Linked DNA regions of Homo sapiens: regions 2, 3 and 4 are each reported to be linked to region 1. Evidence: microRNA targets listed by miRTarBase, many of them from high-throughput screens and not tested one by one. Region 1 holds a microRNA gene; each other region holds the end of a gene's coding sequence.

Region 1 (5,482 bases):
CATGCTCACACAGAGTCACACACACAAACACAAGTGCACACACATACACCCAGAGTCACCTTATCCTGGAAGATGGCCAGGGCTGACCTCTGAACCCAGTTCACAGGTGTGGAGTCTGAGACCAGGCAGGGTGAGTGATCTGCCCACAGCCACACAGTGTATTAATTCATGTCCAGGCAGGGAAAATTCACCCCAGTCTTCCCACACTGGGCTGTTCTGTGAGAAATCCCAAGTAAAGGGTTTAGCCTACTGCCCAGCACCTCTGAGGTCCCCATTTAACCCCAGAGAGGAACGAGTCAGTGGGAGCAGACACCCTGGATCTCTGTGTCTACACTGTATGGACACACACACATATACACAGTTGCATACACAGTCACCTCAACAAATAAACATGTCACCCTGCAAATAGTCTTCCTTTCATCCCACCCCTCTCCTCACCGCCTTTGCTTGCTCATACCCACTCATTCTTCATATCCCTGCTCAGACACCCCCTTCCTCCAGGAAGCCCTCCTTGACACTCTACCAACTAAATCACATGTTTTCAGGGCTCCTACGATCCCCTAATACCTCCCCGTCCTGGCCCAACCCCTCTACCTATGTCCCCCTATCCCAGCCCTGACCCCTCTGCCTGGGCCTCCCCCATCCCAGCCCCAACCCCTCTACCTATGTCCCCCCATCCCAGCCCTGACCCCTCTGCCTGAGCCTCCCCAACCCCAGCCCTGACCCCTCTGCTTGGGGCCTCCCTCATCCCAGCCCCAACCCCTCTACCTTTGTCCCCCCATCCCACCCCGACACCTCTGCCTGTGCCCACCACCCCAGCCCTGACCCTTCTGCCTGGGCCTCCCCCATCCCAGCCCTGACCCCTCTGCCTGGGCCTCCCCCATCCCAGCCCTGATCCCTCTGCCTGGACCTCCCCCATCCCAGCCCTGACCTGTCTGTACTGTCATTGGTGACAGGTCTGTCTTCTCCAATAAACTGGGAGCTCCAGGAGGACAGACCTGAGCTACCCTTTCCACTGTACTTCCAACACCCAACACAGAACTACTCAATAGATACATGTTGGTGGAGGACACACGGGTGCCCGCACACAATGGCGCATATAGGACAGCACACACCACCAAACCAAGACTCATGCCCATGGTCATGCCTACACAGCCACAAATGAAACAGGCATGAAGGGCTGAGTGCTTGCCATGTTCCAGGCACTGTGCTAAGCATGCTACATGTATTACCTCATTTAAGACTCCCATCAACACTGCTGAGTGATAGCCATCACCATACAGACATATACACATTCTACTAAATGAGCCAACAGCTATAAATCACCTTGTACAGTGCCTGGTGCACAATGTTCACTCAGCCAACTGACATTTGGTGGAGAAGGCATTTAATAAGCACACAAACAAACACATAATGAAATTCCCAGCAGTGATACGTGCCGTGAAGAAAAGATAAAGCAGGGTGAGGGGACTGAGAGTGACAGGATCAGTGCCAGTTTAGATGGGGAGGTCAGGGAAGGCTGCCCTGAGGAGGTGACATCTGAGGTGAATGAAGTGAAGAAGGGAGCCAGGCAATCATCACCCCACAATGCCACACACAACAGCCCCCTACACTCACAAGCACACAGCAGTCCCACTCAGAGCACTCAGAACTACTGCACACACACATGCACACGCACACCTGTACCAGATGTGCACACACACACTCAAAAGGGAATGACATCCCCCAAGTCCAGCAACTTGGCATTCCAATCCCTTTGCAGCCCTTATCCAAGGATTGCCCATGTCACCCACCCCACTGGTTCTCCACATGAGGGCCCGCTACCAACACCCAGCTCCCTCCCTCCCGTCCCCAGACCCTTCGGAACAGGGCAACAGAGAAGAGAAGATGTTGGAAGTTCCGGTGCCTGATGTGGAAAGAGAGGGCAAAGAGGAGCTGTGGGGGTTAGCGGGGACCCGGCATGGGAGAGAGGGAGTTGCTAGAGTACAGAGGAGAAGGACAATGGAGACAGCTGAGGAGGAGGGGCAGGCAGGGCCCGCAGAGCAAACCTAAATGTGCTGCCTGTCCTCTGAGCAGTGGCACAGGCACCAGCCCCCTTACCTGGAGCCCCCATGCTGGAGTGAACCATGCTGCCCGCCCCGCCAGGGCTGGGGGAACAACTGTGTCATCTCCCCACCCTCTCTGGGGGCCGAGCCCTCCCTGCCGGAAGTCACTCAGGGAGGAAACCACAGGGCCGGTCCGCCCCCTTCAGAAGGGAAAATACCCTGGCCCACAGACCCGCCCCGGCAGCCCGGCCCACCCCAAATCATGTGTGTGTGCTGGGGGGTGGGGGCTAGTGGGGCAGAGGATAAGCAGGCTGGAAGAGCCGACTCCTACGGCTGCGATCCAAGAGGTGCCTGCAACAGTTGCCCCCCGACTTCTGTCGCCCCCATGGAGGCAAACAAGTCTGGAACAGGGAATGGGGGTCTGGGAGAGAAGGTGGGTCCACAGCAGTAACAACAATAAAACACTAGCCAGCAGCTTATTGGAGAGAGGGCTTTGCCGATGCCTGACCCTGTGCCTCACTCTTGACAGGTGCCATCTCCAATGTGGTGGTCACTCTTATTTGCCCCATTTTACAGATGAAAAGACTGAGGATCAGAGAGGTGAGCAGTAGCTTTCCCAAAGGCCCAGAGCCAAGAAGCGTTGAAGCTTAAAAGCACGCCGCGGCAGGGAAGATCAAGCAAGCCCTGCGCCTATCTGCAGGTGAGCTGTTGGGTGCCACCATTGGGAGGAAGTGGTGCCCGTGGGCAGTGGTAGTGGGGACGGTGGGTCGGGGACTTGGCCTGGGGCTACAATAAGTCGCCGGCCAAATGCGGGCGCCCGAGGCGGCTCCAGTGGAGGGGAGCACCAGGTCCCCGGGCTGCCGGCTGGCTCTTCGCGCTGCGGCGCTCCCATTTCAGCGCTTCCCTCCGTGCCCGCCAGAGGGCGGCAGCGCCCAGCCAATGGGCCGGAGGGCGGGGCCGGCTGCGGAGAAGGGAGCCCCTCCCTCCGCTCCCCTCCCCAACACCCTCCCAACACCTCCGCTCGCACACCTGCGAGGGTCACACAAAGGCGCAGGACTCCCGGCGCACCGCAGCTCAGACAAAGGCGCGCCCGAGTCCGCTGCCCTCTTCCTCTTGGTGCCCGAGGTCTGAGGCTGTGGGGCTGCCTGGCGTCTCCAGACACCCCACATGCCCGCCTGGGCCCCGCAGGACATCCTGCGCCCCGTGGCTGGGGGGCCCCCTAAACCACAGGTGCATGCACAGACGCCTGGACTCACCCTCACACACACAAGTATTTCTACAGATGAACCCCAGCACTTCACACACACACACGTGTGCACACACACGTGCATGAACACATCTATGTGCACAGGCCCCAACACCAGCCCTCCCTGCTGACGATGGTCACTCCCATATACTGATACCTCCTCTACTCCCTCACATGGACCCATGGGCACAAGGGCACTTCTACACATATGTGCCCAAGCATACTTCCTGGCCACTCGCACCCACTCACACACAGGCACACTCAGAAAGGGTATACTACAGGCACAACTACAGGAGTGCCCTCCCCTGACTGCACACGTGCCCTGTGCACCCAGACACACCCAGGCAAGCAGGTGGGCACAACAGGAAGGACTGGCAGTTCTCATATATGCACACGAGAGGTGACCGTTTCCCGGCATCTACACTCCACAACATCCCGTATCGTAAAGGCCATTTCACAGAGGAGATCCACAGACCACACAGCAACTGGCCACAGGATTTCTATACATGAGGGTCTTCCCGACAGCAGCCTGGTAGCAGTGGACACTGGAGCCTTGTCTCAAAGCGACATTTACGCAGTAAGCTTTGTTTTCAGTTAGGATTTGTTTTGGGGGGCTTGGAAATGGGGCTATAGGACATTATGGGGGGGGGCAAAACCTCACCAGCCACCCTTATGCTCCACCCTGGACAGACTCAACATCATCCACGTCAGGAACACGCTTTTGGATGTGACCCCATTCCAGCCCCCTAGAGCCAGCAGAGAAGGACCACCCACTTCCAGTGCGGCCAGGTCTGCAGTTCAGTCCTGGAGCCGGGGAAGGCTGTATACGCTCCCTGAGAGATGAAACAACCCCACACCTCTCGCCTCCCATGCTGGCTCCATTCTCAGTGCCTCAGACCAGAGCTGGGCCTGGTGAGGGGATCTTGAAGGAGGATGGGCCTGCCTGAGAGAGGATAGAGGGGCAGAGTTTGGAACACACTGGCAGCTGGAACAGGGAGGCTCAAGGCAGGGGGAGATGGTGGCCTCGTTGCCACAGAAGAGGCCTCGAGCCATGCTGAGGGAGGCAGGTAGGGCATGGGAGCTAGGGAGCAGTGGGGGCCACTTGAGGTGCAGGGAGCTGGGAGGGAGGCGGTACAGGGGAGGCCAGGCTGGGCTCAGGGCTGAGCGGTAATTAAAGGAGACGTAGGGGGCTCCCCAGGGCCAGCGGGGCTGGTAACTGACACGCGGGCCCCATTGCTCCGCTCATATTTCTCGCCGGATCGATACGTTTGACTCCCGACAAGACAATAATCGCTTGTACGCGGCCGGCGAGTCGATCAAATACATTATTAGAGCGAGGTCCCCCGGGGGCCCGGCGGGGAGTGGTGGGGGGGAGCAGCCAGCCCACCGGGGACAGCAGAGCGAGATTCTTCACCCCTCAGGGCCCCCCAGCCATGGCCTCTTCCTCTTGGCCACCCCTGGGGACCCTCTCTGTGGCTCAGTTCCCCAGCCTCTCTCTGAATGTCTGCTGCTTTGGTGATCTCTCTACTCAGCCCCCAGCATCATCCTTGCTCTGTGAGGGAACCCAAGGGTTCTTTCCCCATAGGCACTGCCCTCATCTGTAGGGCTGTGGCATGTGGGAGCTCAGAGAGGCTCCTCAGACCCCTAGCTTGGCAGGAGACAGGGAGACCAAGCCTCAGGCCATACTCTGAGTCCATGGCTGGGCCAGGAGATGAACTTGGGCCCAAGACTCAATGATACCCACCTCCCTCTGCCCAGTCCCCTTGCTGCATCTAAGCACACGGGGCTTCAGCAGCGCCCAGGCCAGGGGCAGCCTCTGGGGGGTTAGGGAAAGCTAACCTAGGGACCCAAACAAGCAGGAAAACAGGATGATAGGGGTGGCAGGAAAACAGGATGATAGGGGTGGCAGACAAACACATACACAAAGAGATGTGTGTCTGCTCCTGCTGCAGGGCCATGTGGTCCCCCAGTGGGCCTCAGAGACCCTCAAACCATGCCCAGCCTCAGCTCTGGCCCACCCGAGACACTGCTTGCCACTCTTGCCCACTTTCCTGGCTTCTAGGCTCAAGCCTATTTCCCCTTTTAAAAAAAATTAAATTAAGCTTTAGCTTTATTTTTAAAGTCCAGGCTCTTTTTTTTTTTTTTTCCTTTGAGACAGAGTCTCACTCTGTCGCTCAGGCTGGAGTGCAAT
Region 2 (5,482 bases), not on the chromosome of region 1:
CTCCTGGGCTCAAGCAATCTCTGCCTCAGCCTCCCCAGTAGCAAGGACTACAGGCATGTGCCACTGAACTTGGCTAATTTTTTAATTTTTCTTTTGTAGAGATGGGGTCTCACAGGCTGGTTTAGAATTCCTGGCCTCAAGCGATCCTCCTGCCTTGGGCTCCCAAACTGCTGGGATTGCAGATGTGAACCATGGCGCCTAGCCTCCTTACCTTTTTTGTTTGTTTGTTTGAGACGGAGTTTTGCTCTTGTTGCCCAGGCTGAAGTACAATGGTGTGATCTCGGCTCAGTGCAACCTCCACCTCCCGGATTCAAGCGATTCTCCTGCCTCAGCCTCTTGAGTAGCTGGGATTACAGGCATGTGCCACCACGCCTGGCTAATTTTGTATTTTTAGTAGAGATGGGGTTTTTCCACGTTGGTCAGGCTAGTCTCGAACTCCTGACCTCAGGTGATCTACTCGCCTCGGCCTCCCAAAATGCTGGGATTACAGGCATGAGCCACCACACCCGGCCAGCCTTTTTACTTTTTAAGGCTTAATAATATTCCATTTTCTGGATCTGCCACATTTTCTTTATCCATTGATCCATTGTGGAAACCTGGATTCCTTCCACATTTTCGCTATTGTGAATAATGACCACTGCTGTGTTGGAGTGCGCACATCTGTTTGCCTTCCTGCCTTCAACTCTTTTGGGTACATACCCCAAAGCGGAATTGCTGGATCCCATGCAATTCTGATTTTAATGTTTTGAGGAATGAGAATTCACTTCGGGTTTGCATGAATCCCACTCTTAGCATGGCACTGCCTTCTCTCCCCTCTCCCCTTCCCCCTGGTGAGGGAGGTGGAGGATGGTGAACCTCAGGCTGAGCAGAGTCTGGAGGAACCGTCTCCTGCAGCCCACGTGGGAAGTTCCTTCTTGGGGGATAGAGGTCGTGCTGGGGACCTCACCTGCTTCTGGCCTTTCCCTGTGGCCCTCCCACAGCTTCTCCAGCTGGTGGTCCCTGCCCTCCAGTCTCCTGTACCCTGCCAGGGGCCCTCCTCCACTGGCGCTGGTCTTTTGTCTATGGATTCATGATCTTTATTTTCTCCCGAACTCTCTTTATGATCATTTCAGAGGGGTCTGGGGAGAAGGGCAGTCTGGAGCTGGCCTTAGTCCTGCCTTTCCTGAGGCACGCATCAGTGCTCGAGCTCCGGGGGTTCTCCTGCCGGTCAAGCCGGGGGCCGGCCGTGAGGACTAAGCGGTCCACAGGCAGCCCTGCTGTACATGAAGCGGGGCAGGTACTGGGTTGGGCGGTGTCCTGGCACAGATGACTGTGCAAAGCCACAGAGGGCCACACTGCCTGAGGCCCCGCGCCGGGAGCTGGCGCTGGAGCAGCGGGAGGCTGAGCAGACGGCGCTTTAGAAAGCGCCCGGGGGCGAGCTCTGAGGGTCGGCGGGTGCTGGGTGGGAGCGGCGAAGGGGAGCTGGCGCCGAGGCCCTCGCCGACCCGCTGCCCTGTCCCCCAGGTGTGCGAGCCGCCGGAACGCAGGCGCCCGGGCCGCCGCTGGAGCGTCAGCATCGACGAGCGCCGGCGGCTGGCCACGCTGGGCGGCCGGGAGAGGCCGGGCGCCGCCGGGACCCAGCTGCACTGCAGGGTGCGCGGGGGGCGGGTCCTCCCCGCCCCGTCCCCGCCCCGCCCCGCCCCTCCGCCTCGCCTCCCTCGACTCAGTCCCACTGGGCCCTTTACCCCGGCGCTCCCGGGCCCCGCCGTTGTCCCCTTCCCGCCCCTCGAGGCTCCCTGACCACCCTCGCCCGCAGGACGTCGTGCAGATGGTAGCCCAGCTGGTGTCGGAGGACGTGGACAAGGACGTGCTCCTTCCCCACCCGCTGAGGTCCACCGAGTCCACCAACGCCTTCCAGGCCTTCCTGGCGCGCAGTGCGCCTTTCTGGCATAATGCGACTTTCGAGGCCTCGAGGTCACCCCCTTCCTAAGAGCCCCATTCAGCCCATTGTCTGTCTTCCAGTGCCTTTCCTTGGGGGCCCACGGTGGGGGCAGCCTCTGCGCCTTCTTTGTGCCCCACCAGGGGGTCACCACCCACCCATGTTAGGAAAACAGGCCAGGCAGGACCTGGCTCCGGACAGCCTGCAGCTGCTGAGGCCTTGGAGACCGGGCTAGGGGCTATGGGAGGCCATCTAGGGGAGGGGAACACTGCCCCGGGTCAGTCTGAGAGGGCCCTGGCAAGGCCTGGGTAGCAGGAGCTTGCCCTCGGGGCCGCTGGGAGGAGGCCTGGGGTACCTGGGCCTGCCTGAGGTGCACTGGTGTCCTGGGAAGCCCCAGTGGCAGGCGCTGCCTGGAGACTCAGCTCCTTGGCTGGCCTGGTCTGGGGAACTGGGTATCTGCCTGCACCAGGCTGTGAGATGGGCCAGGCAGAGTTCTCCAGGGGGCGGGGTCTCACATTGGGTCCTGCCTCTGAAGACCCAGAAGGGCACACGGGACCCCAGGGGTGCTGTGGTGGGGAGCAGCAAGCCCAGGGACCCAATGCAGTGCCCAGCACAGAGGGAGGCTGTCTGGAGGCAGAGATGCCTCCTGGCCTCTGGACAGCGATGCTGGTGGTGGACGAGGGCCAAGAGGGTATCCTGCGCAGGGGGTCTGAGCAACTGTGAGGAGCTGGCTGCCGCAGGGGCCTGTGGGACATGGTCCACTGGGTGACTGCCTCGTTTCCAGGCTGCAGGGCCCTCGGAAGGGTGCTGAGCCGGGGTAACGTGTCCCAGCTGCATTTTGGGGACACTAAGTTGCAGGGGGACTGGATTGGGAGGCGGGGCAGGAGAGCTGTGAGCATGGGTTCCCAGCCCGGGGTGGGTGGGGGTGGGGAAAGGGCCCTGAACTCTGTGACTGACTGTTAGGGGCCTGACTGGGCTTCTGTGGAGGTGGCTAGGTGGAGGAGGCTTTGGGGCAAGCGGAGGTGATCACTCCTGGGCTCCAGGTGAGGGCAGGAGCTGGACCTGTGCGGTGGCCTGGACCACCAGATACACTACATGCTGGCTGTGCTGCCCACCTGGCCTGTAACCCTCCCCTTCCCGCTGCTGAGAAGCCACCTGACTGCACTGCCAGCCACCTGCTGCCCTGACACAGGATCCCTGGCCCGAGTTGAATCCTCTGCACCTGCCTGTCTCCCCTTCTTACTGTAAGACTCAGTGAAGTTCCCTCCTCCTTCAGGAAGCCTTCCAAGATTACACAGCCAGGTGCTCCCCTTCTCTCCCAAGTCCTCTGAATGTCATTTGGTGCACCCTAGGGATCCTCTGCATTTCTCAGGAGCCCTAGGGTAGGTGGATGGAGGGCAGATCCTCCAGGGGCTAGGGCAGGTGTCCTTAAGGGTGTGGGGAGTTTTGGGCAGGGCACTGTCCTTAAGGGTGTGGGGAGTTTTGGGTCATGACCCACCCCCTCTGAGGCCCCTGATGATGATGTGGGGAATGGGATCCTATGGGCCCAGCTGCATGCCAGGCAGGCATCCCCAGGTGTAAACAGGGCAGAGCGGAGCTGACAGGTAAGCAGTTGCCATGGGGGTGATGAGCTGGGCAGTCCTCTGTTGCTGAGTGGCTTTAAAGAACCACTCGTTGTTCTGTGACTTGGGGGTTGGCTGGGCTCATCCTGCCAGCTCTCCTGCTCTCGTTTGAGTGTCTCCTGAGGCTGCAGTCAGAGCGTGGTGGTCCAGGATGCTGGTGATGCTGGGATGGTTGCCCTCTCTGCTCCATGAGGTCTCCCTACAGAGCACCTCCCCCATGGTGGCAGCAGAGACAAAACCCTGGCCTCCTTCAGGCTGAGGCCCAGAGCCAGTCTCCTGGTGGGTAAGGTGGCCACAGGGCCAGCTGGCAGCAGGGTATTGGCACTGAGAGGCACAGGCCTCTCCAACAGAGGTGGTGCCGGGACAGGGGCAGTGCCTGGAGACCGCTTAGGTTGTCACAACTGGGATTTGTGTACTAGTTTTCTGTAGCTGCCATAAAAATTGCCACAAATTCAGTAGGTTTGGTTTCTTTTTCTTTTTTCTTTTTTTGGTGGTTGGGGCGGAGCGGGGGGCAGGCTTGCTATGTTGCCCAGGCTGGTCTTGAACTATTGGACTCAAGTGATCCCCCGACTTTGGCCTCCTGGGTAGCTGGGACTGCAGGTGCATCCCACCACACCCGGCCTTTATTTTTTTTTTTGTAAGTTTTTATAGAGAAACAGTCTTGGTATGTTGCTCAGGCTGGTCTTGAACTCCTTGACCCAAGCAATCCTCTTGCCTCGGCCTCCTGAGTAGCTGGGGTTACATGAGTGTTCCACTGGTGCCTGGCTTTGAGTGTTTTAAAACAACACAAATGTATTAGCTAAGTTTTGTAGAAGTTCAAAATGGGTATCTTTGGGCTCAGAATGAGGGGTTGGCAGAGTTCTGTTCCTTCTGGAGGTGCCAGGGGAGACCCTGTTTCCCTTTTTCTAGCCTCAAGAAGCCACCTGCATTCCTTGGCTGGTAGTTGTGGCCTCCTTCGGAGCGGCCGAGCCCCTCTCTGCCCTGCCCTTCTCTGCCCACCTCTCCATTGCCTCCCTCCTGCACCCTGAAACACACTTGTGGCTACGCTGGGCCCACCCGGAAGATCCAGGGTCGCCTGCCTGCTTTCGGGTGAACTGGTTAGCCCCCTTCCTAACCTGCCACTTAACCCAGTTAACCCAGCCTGCTCCAAGGTTCTGGGGATTTGTACACAAGTATCTGTGAGAGGGGCATTCTGCCTTCCACAGGGGCTGCCGGCACCTGGTGGGCAGAGGCGGCGGCGCTGTGCTGCTCAGGATCCCGCAATGCATGGGCAGCCCCAAACCATGAGGGCCCGGCAGGAAACCCGGGGGCAGAGGAGGGTGCGTGCGGCGGGAGCGCATGTGAAGCCCACCTTGCAAGGGGAGGGGCGCGCTCTTCGCGGGACGGCAGAGGGAGGGTCTCTGAGGCGCGTGGAATCAAGGGGACAGAAGAAGCAGTCTCGGGAGTGGGAAGGATCCTGGGAGGGGAGTGGGAAGGATCCTGGGAGGGGAGTGGGAAGGATCCTGGGAGGGGAGTGGGAAGGATCCTGGGAGGGGAGTGGGAAGGATCCTGGGAGGGGAGTGGGGATCCCCCGAAGTCTCGCAGCAGTAGTGTGGTGCTTAGGCCGTCGCCCCGGCCGCCACTGCGCCTCCCCACCCGCAGGCCTCCGCAGCGCCACGGGCGGCCGCGCGGGGTAGCGTTTGGGGGCTCCCGGGGACGCGGTCTCCGGCGCGCAGGTCCGCCCAGGGTTGGCCGCGTGGTCCCCCGGGCTTCCCACGCCCGATTCGAATTGTGACTCCGGCTGGCTCCGGACCGAGCCGAGGACGCTCCGGCACCACAGCAGGAGCCGCGCGGGCGGGGGCGCGGGGCGCGGAACGGGGCGCGGGGCGCCTGGGAGATGTAGTTCGCGGCCTTCCCCGGCGCACCAGACAATGCCCGACGCGGCCCCGCTGGAGAAACGCCT
Region 3 (5,482 bases), not on the chromosome of region 1:
TGAAAGGAGATCATGACATGGCACTCCAGTCTGGGCGACAGAGCAAGACTCCGTCTGGGAGAAGAAAAAAAAAAAAACACACAGGCCAGGCATGGTGGCTCACATCTGTAATCCCAGCATTTAGGGAGACTGAGGTGGGAGGATCATCTGAGTCCACCCTGGGCAACACAGAACTCCGTCTCATTTTATAAAAAACAGCCGGGCACGGTAGCTCATGCCTGTAATCCCAGCACTTTGGGAGGCTGAGGCGGGTGGATCAGGAGGTCAGGAGATCGATACCATCCTGGCCAACGTGGTGAAACCCCGTCTCTACTAGAAATACAAAAATTGGCCAGGCGCGGTGGTGGGCGCCTGTGATCCCAGCTACTTGCGAGGCTGGGGCAGGAGAGTTGCTTGAACCCGGGCAGCAGAGGTTGCAGTGAGCTAGGATCATGACACTGCACTCCAGCCTGGGCGACAGAGACTGTTTCAAAAAAAAATAAATACATAAAATAAAACATCTTCATGAATCAAAATTCACTAATTCCAGGCCTGCTACTGAAAAGGGATATGCATATGAAAACTATTAAGGGGACTTGTGGTTGGGAAGTAATTACTATTTAAAATCTTGTGTGAATTGTCCAATTTCTCCCGCACCTCCCATCAAGCAGTGTATGCTTTGGGTTACTACCCATACTGGACTGTTACCTCAGACAACATGCTGTGACTTTTCTACCTGTGATACTTTTTTTTTTTTTTTTTTTAAAGACAGAGTCTCACACTCTCGCCTGGGCTGAAGTGCAATGGCACGATCTCGGCTCACTGCAACCTCCACCTCCTGTGTTCAAGCGATTCTCTTGCCTCAGCCTCCCGAGTAGCTGGGATTACAGGCGCCTGCCACCACACGCAGCTAATTTTTGTATTTTTAGTAGAGACGTGGTTTCACTATGTCGGCCAGGCTGGCCTTGAAATCCTGACCTCATGATCCACCTGCCTCAGCCTCCCAAAGTGCTGGGATTACAGGCGTGAGCCACTGCGCCCAGCCTGAGAAATAATCTTCAAAAGCCTATTAATACACTTGCAGTTCCAGCAACATAAATTTGGCTTTCCTACATTCTGGATATACCAATAATAAACAAAGGCATCATGGTTTTTAAAACTTTATTTCAACATAACTATGCTTACAGAAATACACTCATATTGGTTAATAGAATGCAATTTAAGTTTAACTTATCCTACATAATTTGGACCAAAAACTTGGTACATGGTTTAGGATTTTAAAAAAGGATTTGCAATCTGGTTTATTTTTATCTATTACAAATGTATAAAAGATCTTCCATCAAATGCTGCTAAAGAAGGCAGCAAGAACCTTGAGAAATTTACCTTTGGTTTGCCTCAGAAAAGTAACACGTATTGCACTGCTTAAGTTTATAAAATTGGTGCAACAAAACATTGTTGTAATGTTTCAATGCCAGTTTAGAAAGTTCAATAACTAATGGATATGGAAGGGACCGGGAGGGAACCTATGTACACATGTGAAACTGTAAAAGCTATCTGATTTAGTTAATATTGCATGTAGATTGTAAATCTACACAAACCAAGATTCAGATAATTTCTTCAATCTGAATTAACACTATCTGTTCACTTCATCTGCTGAGGTCAACCAGGAAACTAGGAACACCAGCTGTAAGTTTTTCTGACTTATGTAAAAAAGAAACTTAACTTTCTTCCTCAGCTTATCAATCCAGAAGTGACAGTATACTACAGGCAAGGTATTCCTTCCATTGTCAACATTCATAGGGTGACATGCAATGAGGTCTACTTGGGTTTTAATTTGTATCAGCACTCATACGCAAAACAGTCTCCAAAGTTAATTACCACATGACTTTAGAAGTGACTCTAAAAAATAAAATGGCCCTTCTTAGAAGACTAGAGCAAAAGATCCAGCCATAGTTATAAGCCTTATTAAAAAAAAAAAAAAATGCAGCCCTTTGTGAATTACACAACTAAAAAAAAAAGTAGCCCCAGAATAAGAAGCAGCTCTGAAAAGAGGAAAAAATATAACTTAAAATATCTTGAAAACCAATGTGAATACAGGTTCAAAAGATAGTTAAGAGATTCATTTTCATAAGACTACCTAAGATTAAGGCTTATAATATATGCTAGTATTTCAAGTTTATCACTAATTACTAAACATCAATTTACAAATAACATGTTCAATTTTTGTTCTTTTATCCAAAGGGAAAATTCTAGGCTAAATTCTATCCAGTGTGGGGGAGGGGGACTAGAAAATAAAAAAGTTTCAAACAGTTCCATGCAAACATCACATTTTTCAAATGGAAAAACTTCCAACTGGACCAGAAGTTCATACTGCTAATGTACTTTTCATTGAAACAATTTTTAGTAAGTACAAATACATGGCATTAAGGTTCAGAACCTAATATAGGCCTGACAATCAAGTCCTTATTTTCTGGAGGAAGGCCTCAAGTCCAATAAATTTCCAGTAACAATGTTTTTACAAATCAATTTAATAATAAGGGGTTTTAATTTCCTTCATGTTTTTGTTTTTAGCATTCTAGTCTTAAGACTAGATTAGAAGTTAGCTCAATTCCCCAAAAGGCAAATGGTTTTTCTTTGCAGTATGAAAGAATCCACAAAAAAACCTCTTCCCCAAACTAATTCCTAATAACCAATCTGTGCTTAAGATGTATCTTTTTCTATACAATGTAAACGGTAACTTAGGTAAAATGTACCCATGAACATTAAAACTAGTCATTAGAAAGACTTAACTAGCTTTATAATTTAAGTTTTAAAACATAAATATTTGCAGCTTGATCTTCTGTTGACAATGATTGTCGGAGCCTAGAATTCAACATTTACAATGTCCATTCATGCACACAAAACACATACCATTATCACACAACTTACTCCTCATGTCTTAAGAGAAGAATCTTCCGCTTCTTTAAATCTTTGGCCTCCCAGTCAATGCCATGTTCAAACAACTTTTAACTCAAACTTCACTCTCAGATTTTTAACAAGCTTTCCACCCACACGTTATTAATGCTTTTCCTAATCTTTCATGTTGTACTGCCAAATCTGAAACCTGCCTCAAAGAGATCATCAGATTTTTAAAAAATGAAATATAAAGTGGTTATTTCAAAACGGAGTATGGGAGGTCAGAATTCAAGATTCCCTAATGGGATCATATTTTATTTTACTGCAATGAATGACTGCTATCAGTAAGAAAAATCCTCTATTGGATTCTTTCACACTCTTTGGCAACTGGCCAAAGAACCTACAAAAATGTTTTGGAGTACATGCCCTTTTTCATACAAAGTGCCCTCATAGGAACACCAGGATAGCTGCAATTCATTTGAGGCCTCACCTATAGAAAGAGGCTATCACACAGACAGCCAGGACACCCACCAGTTTGTGGAGATCCCTGAGAAAGTATGATTTTAAAAAATCTGGACTGTACTTGTTTCACCAGCCTTTTTCACTGTATAGGAAAGTTGCAGCTGGTCTACCAGCACTCATACTACCTTTCTTATCCTAGGTTTGCCGCGTAATAGCTATGGCTTTGGAATCTCCCAAGTGATATTCTATAAAACTTGAAGGAATAATTATATCTCCTAATTCCAGGTTTGTAGTTTCCAAATATCACTTACAGTTCTCTTTATTGTAAAGTAGCCATATGAACACCAACCATCTATGAGAAAAGGTTCTCCTCAAACATTTAACACTCTACAATTAGGAATTAGCTGTACCAAAACACATGAAAAAAAAAACTGATGGTTGGTATTTGAGATAAAAATTTGTTCGACATGCAACCTAGTGGTTTATTTATTGCAAAATCAAAACTGATAGCTGTGAATTTACTACATCCATTCGAAATAAATAAGTTATATGAAATACAGATTCTGGCATAGATATAAGATGTAAAAATCAAAATCAATAGATTGAACCTGCATATTTCATTTGCTCACAAACTTGCACACACTATTATTCTGCAAAATAGACAACTGCAGCAAAGAAAAAGAAAACTGCCCTTTTGCAAACAAGTCTAAAAGCATCCCTCCAAAGACGCCAAACAAAATAAACATGCATATATATATGTATAAAGTGTTACTGTTCAACACAAATGCTATTTCTAGGAAAAATTTAACTGCATAGGCAAAAAAACATAAACAGAAACCAAAAGAAAAAAAAAATGTGCAACATCTTAAGCCATTAAAGCACCAAAATAAAAAACACACCAAAATCACTGTTTTTATGACGATTAACATACACAAATAAAAAATATTGATCAAAACTCAGGAAGTAAATACTTGGACTGATAGACTGTCTATTGCTGGGGGAATTTTTCTTCAATTTAAATGTCTTCTCATCTCTAAAAAAAAAAATCTTAAAGTGCTAACTTTATATAAAGCAGGCAAATTCTTCAAGTAATTTGCTATTAAGTAAGCCAATTTTTTATAGATCTCAATAAAAAACGAAGAATAAACTAAAGTGAAACAGGAAGATAAGACATGGAGAAAAAAATGACAAGTTGTAGCTGGACAAAGCAATAAAATGCTGTTATACCATCTTAGCCTTCTAATTTCAATTAAACACATAAGCTAACAGATACCTGCTGGTTTAGTACACTCTCTTAGATTTACTAAAATTTACACAACAATCAACAGGTATACATAAAAAGTCCTAAGGAAAAGAATGCCACTTAAAAATCAACATCAGATACTAATTAAAGCAATCTTAAAAGGTTGTCTGCTATCATAAATGAATATAAAATGTAATATACCTTACAAACTAAGAACTGAAACCTTGTTCAAAGTTTCATTACTCCTGCCCTTGAGCTGCTTCTTCAAGATAGTACACATTAACCAAATGGCGATTGAGGTGTTTGCTGTAATCTTTTCCCTTTCTGAAAGAACGATCACAGAAGATACAAACAAAATCTCCCTTAGCCGCTTTGACTGCCAAGGCTTCCTTTGCATTTTTTCTGCTAGATTCTTGTGGAACTGGCCGAGCCCCATGCAATCCAGAATCATCACTACCCTCTGACATGTTGTCACTTAGGTCACTTCCTTCATGGCTGTGGATGCCTTCATCTTCATCAATTTCCTGAGACTCATTTGCTGCCATTGTAGCAGGAGGTGATGCCAGTGCAGTTTTGGACACTGCTTCACGTTCTTCTACTGCTGAAGGGGGAAGCATTGGTGAAACTGGTTCTTCAACTGTTGAATTTATACCAGTGAGATTCTCTCTTGTGTTCTGATCAGTGTCCATTTTCATTTCACAAACTATACTGTCAGTCTGATGTTTACCATTTAAAGTTTCACCCTCTGGCGTATTCAAGTTTTGTCCAGAGGATGAAATATGGGTAGATTCGTTGATATTAGCAGCAAGACCAGGTAGGCTCTCATCTGCCTCTTCTGCTCCTACTTTCTGAAGAGGGGCTTCTTTATTTCCTTCACCTGTGTTGAGTAATTTTTGGTCTCCT
Region 4 (3,000 bases), not on the chromosome of region 1:
AGTGCCTGAGGTCCGGCTGGGTAGTGTGTCACTGATCCCCCTTCGAGGTAGTGAAAATGAAATGCGCCGGAGTGTGGCTGCCTTCACCGCGGACCCTCTGTCTGTGAGTGGCTCTCCATGCCTTTGGGCAGGGGGCTGGGGGCCTGGCTGGGTGCCTGCCTTCTACTCCACAGTAGATGATTGCCCTGATTGCCCTCCCCGATTGCCCTCCGGCCCCCTCCCTCCAGCCTTGGTGGGGGCCCTCATAGGCCTCTTTGGTTCACACCATTCAAAGGAGCCCCTTCTGCCTGGCCCTGGAAGCTGGGAGTCCCCTCTGCCTGGCCCTGGGAGCTGGGAGCCTGGCTGATTGGAGTGCTCCCCGGCTGGCAGTGGAGAGTGGCTGCAGCAGCTGCAGCAGCTTCAGCGGGGCGCCAGCCCCTCTGGGCCTTCACAAAATACCTGTGGGTCTCTTGCCTTCCTGCAGCTTCTGCGCAACGTCTGAGCACAGGAGCCCATCCTTGGCTCTAGGATTCCGCCGCTGGAAGCCTTCTGTTCAGACACCCCTTATGCTCCAAGGCCTGATGTGAGCCAGCGGGGGGTGCATGGGAAACTGCACCCCACAACCCACATCCTCCATCCTGACTGCAGCATGGGGTTCCCCGGCAGGGGTGGGAGGCAGCAGGGGTCAGCCTGGGCAGGAACCTCTCCCAACTCTGTCCAGGTGTTCAGACCTCTTGGCCCAACCTGCTCACCCCACCGGGTTCACTGTCCTTGTGGGGCTGGAGAGATGGGCATAAGTCAGGAACTTGGGAGGACCACCACCCTTTCAGAGGCGTGAGGCCCTGGGGCCCTGCCGGAAGGGAGCCCCCTGCTCCTCCCAACAAACTCCAGAACAGCAGAAAGCGGGTGCTGTAGAGGAGCACTCAGCTCACGGGGAGGGAGCTCTTGGCTGAGCTTCTACAGGGCTGAGAGCTGCGCTTTGGGGACTTCAGCCTTCCTTCCAGTCTGGGCTGAGTGGGGGGTCCAGACTACCTGATGCCCCTTCCCCAATTTGGGGACTTTTTGATAATATAAATATATCTGTATATTTTACCCTATGGTGCTGAGGCCTGTGATTGGCTAAGGGGATTGGGCGTCCTGGGGTAGGAGGGGACAGGAGGTCGGGAAGCCCAGGGGTGAGTGCCTAGTGCCTGAAGCTGAGAACCTAGGCCTTGCTTTCTCCAGGCCCTGAGCTATTCAGACGACCCCCTTCCCCAAGCAGAGCCCTGGCTTGACTCCATGCCTTCCCCATTGTACTATCCTGCAGCCAGGCTGGGAATGCCGGTCCTTTCCTGGCCAGCACTGACCCTGGCTGGACACAAGCCCCTGTCCTGCTGCAGTCCGAGTCTGAGTCCCAGCTGGGGCCTGGGTGTGGTGTGTCAGTGACTCAGGCCTGGCAGCCCTGCAGCAGCCCCCTGCTGGAGACACAAGGTCAGAGCCACAGGAGCCTGAGGAAATTGAGAAGAAGCACCTTTGGGTCACCTGTGGCCCCAGTGCCTACCCCTCCAGAGGTGGGGCCTGCCATGCACCAGGGGGCTGCCCTCACTGGGCACTGCCTGGCCATCTCCACTAAGAAGATGAGGCCCTGGCCTGCAGAGGAAATAATGAGTTGCTCAGAGATGGGTTTGGGACTCCCTGGGGAGGTGCCAGACACCACATTCCCGCCTCTGCCTAGAGCCTCATTACCACCCGCTCTTCGGGGGCTCAGTGGGCGGACAGGCTGACCTCCATCCTTAGCCTCAGCCAGTGGGGCTGGGCAGAGTGGGTGGGGATGGGCCATGTGACCTCCGACTCAGGCATCCAGCTCAGTGGGGAGCCTGGGTCCAGCGGAAGACTTGGGGAGCTGGACTCCAGGTTCCCTCTCGCTGTCTCAGGAAGGGGAGGTATATGGCAGGAGACTGGAACCGGTTCCCTGAGTCCTACTGACCTATTTCACAGGCTGGGGCTAAGCCCCTTGAGTCTCCCACCTCCTGTGGGTCGCTCTGGCCAGATCCACAGGTCGAATGTCTGACCCTTCTGCCTCCAGCCAGGACAGGTTGGACCCCCTTATCCAAGTGCTGAGGGGCTGGAATCCGCTCCTGGATCTGACCTTGCACTGCCCAGCCAGCCCTGAGGCCCACCTGAGTGGGTGAGACTGGAGGCGCCCCCTGCTCTGCTAAGGCCACTGCCCCAGCTCAGCGTGCTGGCTGCAGTCCTGCACTAGGCCACAAGGCGGCAGCCATGGACCACTCATCATTGCTGGAATCAAAGCAGGGTCTGGAGGATGCCTGAGTGGTGGTCCTGGCCCAGACCTTTCTCTGCTGGGGTGTGAAGCGGGACCCAGTTCTGCCTTTGGCCTGCAGGCTGGTGACATTCTGGAAGGCAGCACCATACAGGAATGTGCATTGGAGTCCTGGGCTCTGGGAACCAGGAAGAGGAGGGAACAGCCTTCTACCAAGTACCTGCTGTGAATCGGCCCCTGTGCCCCCTGCACTGTCTGCTCTTGGCAAGGGGGAGCTAGGCCCAGAGAAGGGAGGCAACTTTCCCAAGGTCACACCATGCTCGTGAAGCAGGCCTGAGGTCCATTTCCCCTGCCCTACTTTGGTGGGGTCTCCCTCTTTGACTCCCCTCCTGATTCCAACCCTTTTCTCCTCTTAGAAATGGCCTGAGGCAGGGGGTCTGAACTGTCAGGAGTTAGTGATGGCTTAAAGTGATTTCCCTCTGGTAAGGGGTAGGGGTGACATCCAAACAGGAGCCTCAGGGCCTCAGCCGGAATGAAATATGCCTGTGACAACAGTGTTGGATGGGTTAGGGGCAGGAGGCTCTGCTGGTCCTTGTCGCAAGGATTCCTAAAAATGGGGCCTGTTGGGACCCTGGATGGTTTGCTCATTCACATATTATTTGAAGTTGGGTTGCCATGGATGAGTTGAAGACCCCAGACCTGGACCTGCAGAGGGGCCAGGAGCAGCTCTTGGAAAGGGAGGGGCTTCCTGGACAAGGAAG

The links. The annotated mature microRNA hsa-miR-4323 reads CAGCCCCACAGCCUCAGA and lies in region 1 at 3,172-3,189, opposite strand. An mRNA with a match to its seed (bases 2 to 7 or 8) in the 3' UTR can be bound and repressed. Matches are read on the target gene's strand: a 7mer-m8 pairs with bases 2 to 8, a 7mer-A1 pairs with bases 2 to 7 and ends in A, and an 8mer does both.
Region 2: miRTarBase lists TEX22 as a target of hsa-miR-4323. Seed matches in the 3' UTR shown: 7mer-A1 at 2,153-2,159 and 7mer-A1 at 3,328-3,334.
Region 3: miRTarBase lists REST as a target of hsa-miR-4323. Seed matches in the 3' UTR shown: 8mer at 1,999-2,006.
Region 4: the mRNA of ARAP1 is a reported target of hsa-miR-4323. Seed matches in the 3' UTR shown: 7mer-m8 at 754-760.

The regions. Positions count from the first base shown.
Region 1 is chr19:42,130,284-42,135,765 of GRCh38, forward strand. MIR4323 (microRNA 4323) reads right to left here and starts at 3,230; the gene lies at 3,162-3,230. It overlaps POU2F2 (POU class 2 homeobox 2), which reads right to left and starts at 2,163. Exons shown (of 15, transcript NM_001394376.1): 1 at 2,101-2,163. The coding sequence starts at 2,128. LNROP (long non-coding regulator of POU2F2) reads left to right here and starts at 2,346. Exons shown (of 3, transcript NR_038332.1): 1 at 2,346-2,478; 2 at 2,622-2,745. RefSeq lists a silencer at 2,845-3,104 and an enhancer at 3,385-3,434.
Region 2 is chr14:105,409,865-105,415,346 of GRCh38, forward strand. It overlaps TEX22 (testis expressed 22), which reads left to right. Exons shown (of 4, transcript NM_001195082.2): 3 at 1,504-1,632; 4 at 1,796-3,995. The coding sequence ends at 1,969. Among named protein-coding and RNA genes, the nearest start is that of MTA1-DT, 7.1 kb to the right of the region's middle. RefSeq lists silencers at 1,377-1,436, 1,537-1,666, 5,082-5,482 and enhancers at 1,738-2,241, 2,242-2,744.
Region 3 is chr4:56,931,489-56,936,970 of GRCh38, reverse strand. It overlaps REST (RE1 silencing transcription factor), which reads right to left. Exons shown (of 4, transcript NM_005612.5): 4 at 1,127-5,482. The coding sequence ends at 4,819. Among named protein-coding and RNA genes, the nearest start is that of REST, 26 kb to the right of the region's middle. RefSeq lists an enhancer at 1-272.
Region 4 is chr11:72,683,145-72,686,144 of GRCh38, reverse strand. ARAP1 (ArfGAP with RhoGAP domain, ankyrin repeat and PH domain 1) reads left to right here. Exons shown (of 35, transcript NM_001040118.3): 34 at 1-103; 35 at 464-1,076. The coding sequence ends at 481. Among named protein-coding and RNA genes, the nearest start is that of PDE2A, 10 kb to the right of the region's middle. RefSeq lists an enhancer at 852-1,411.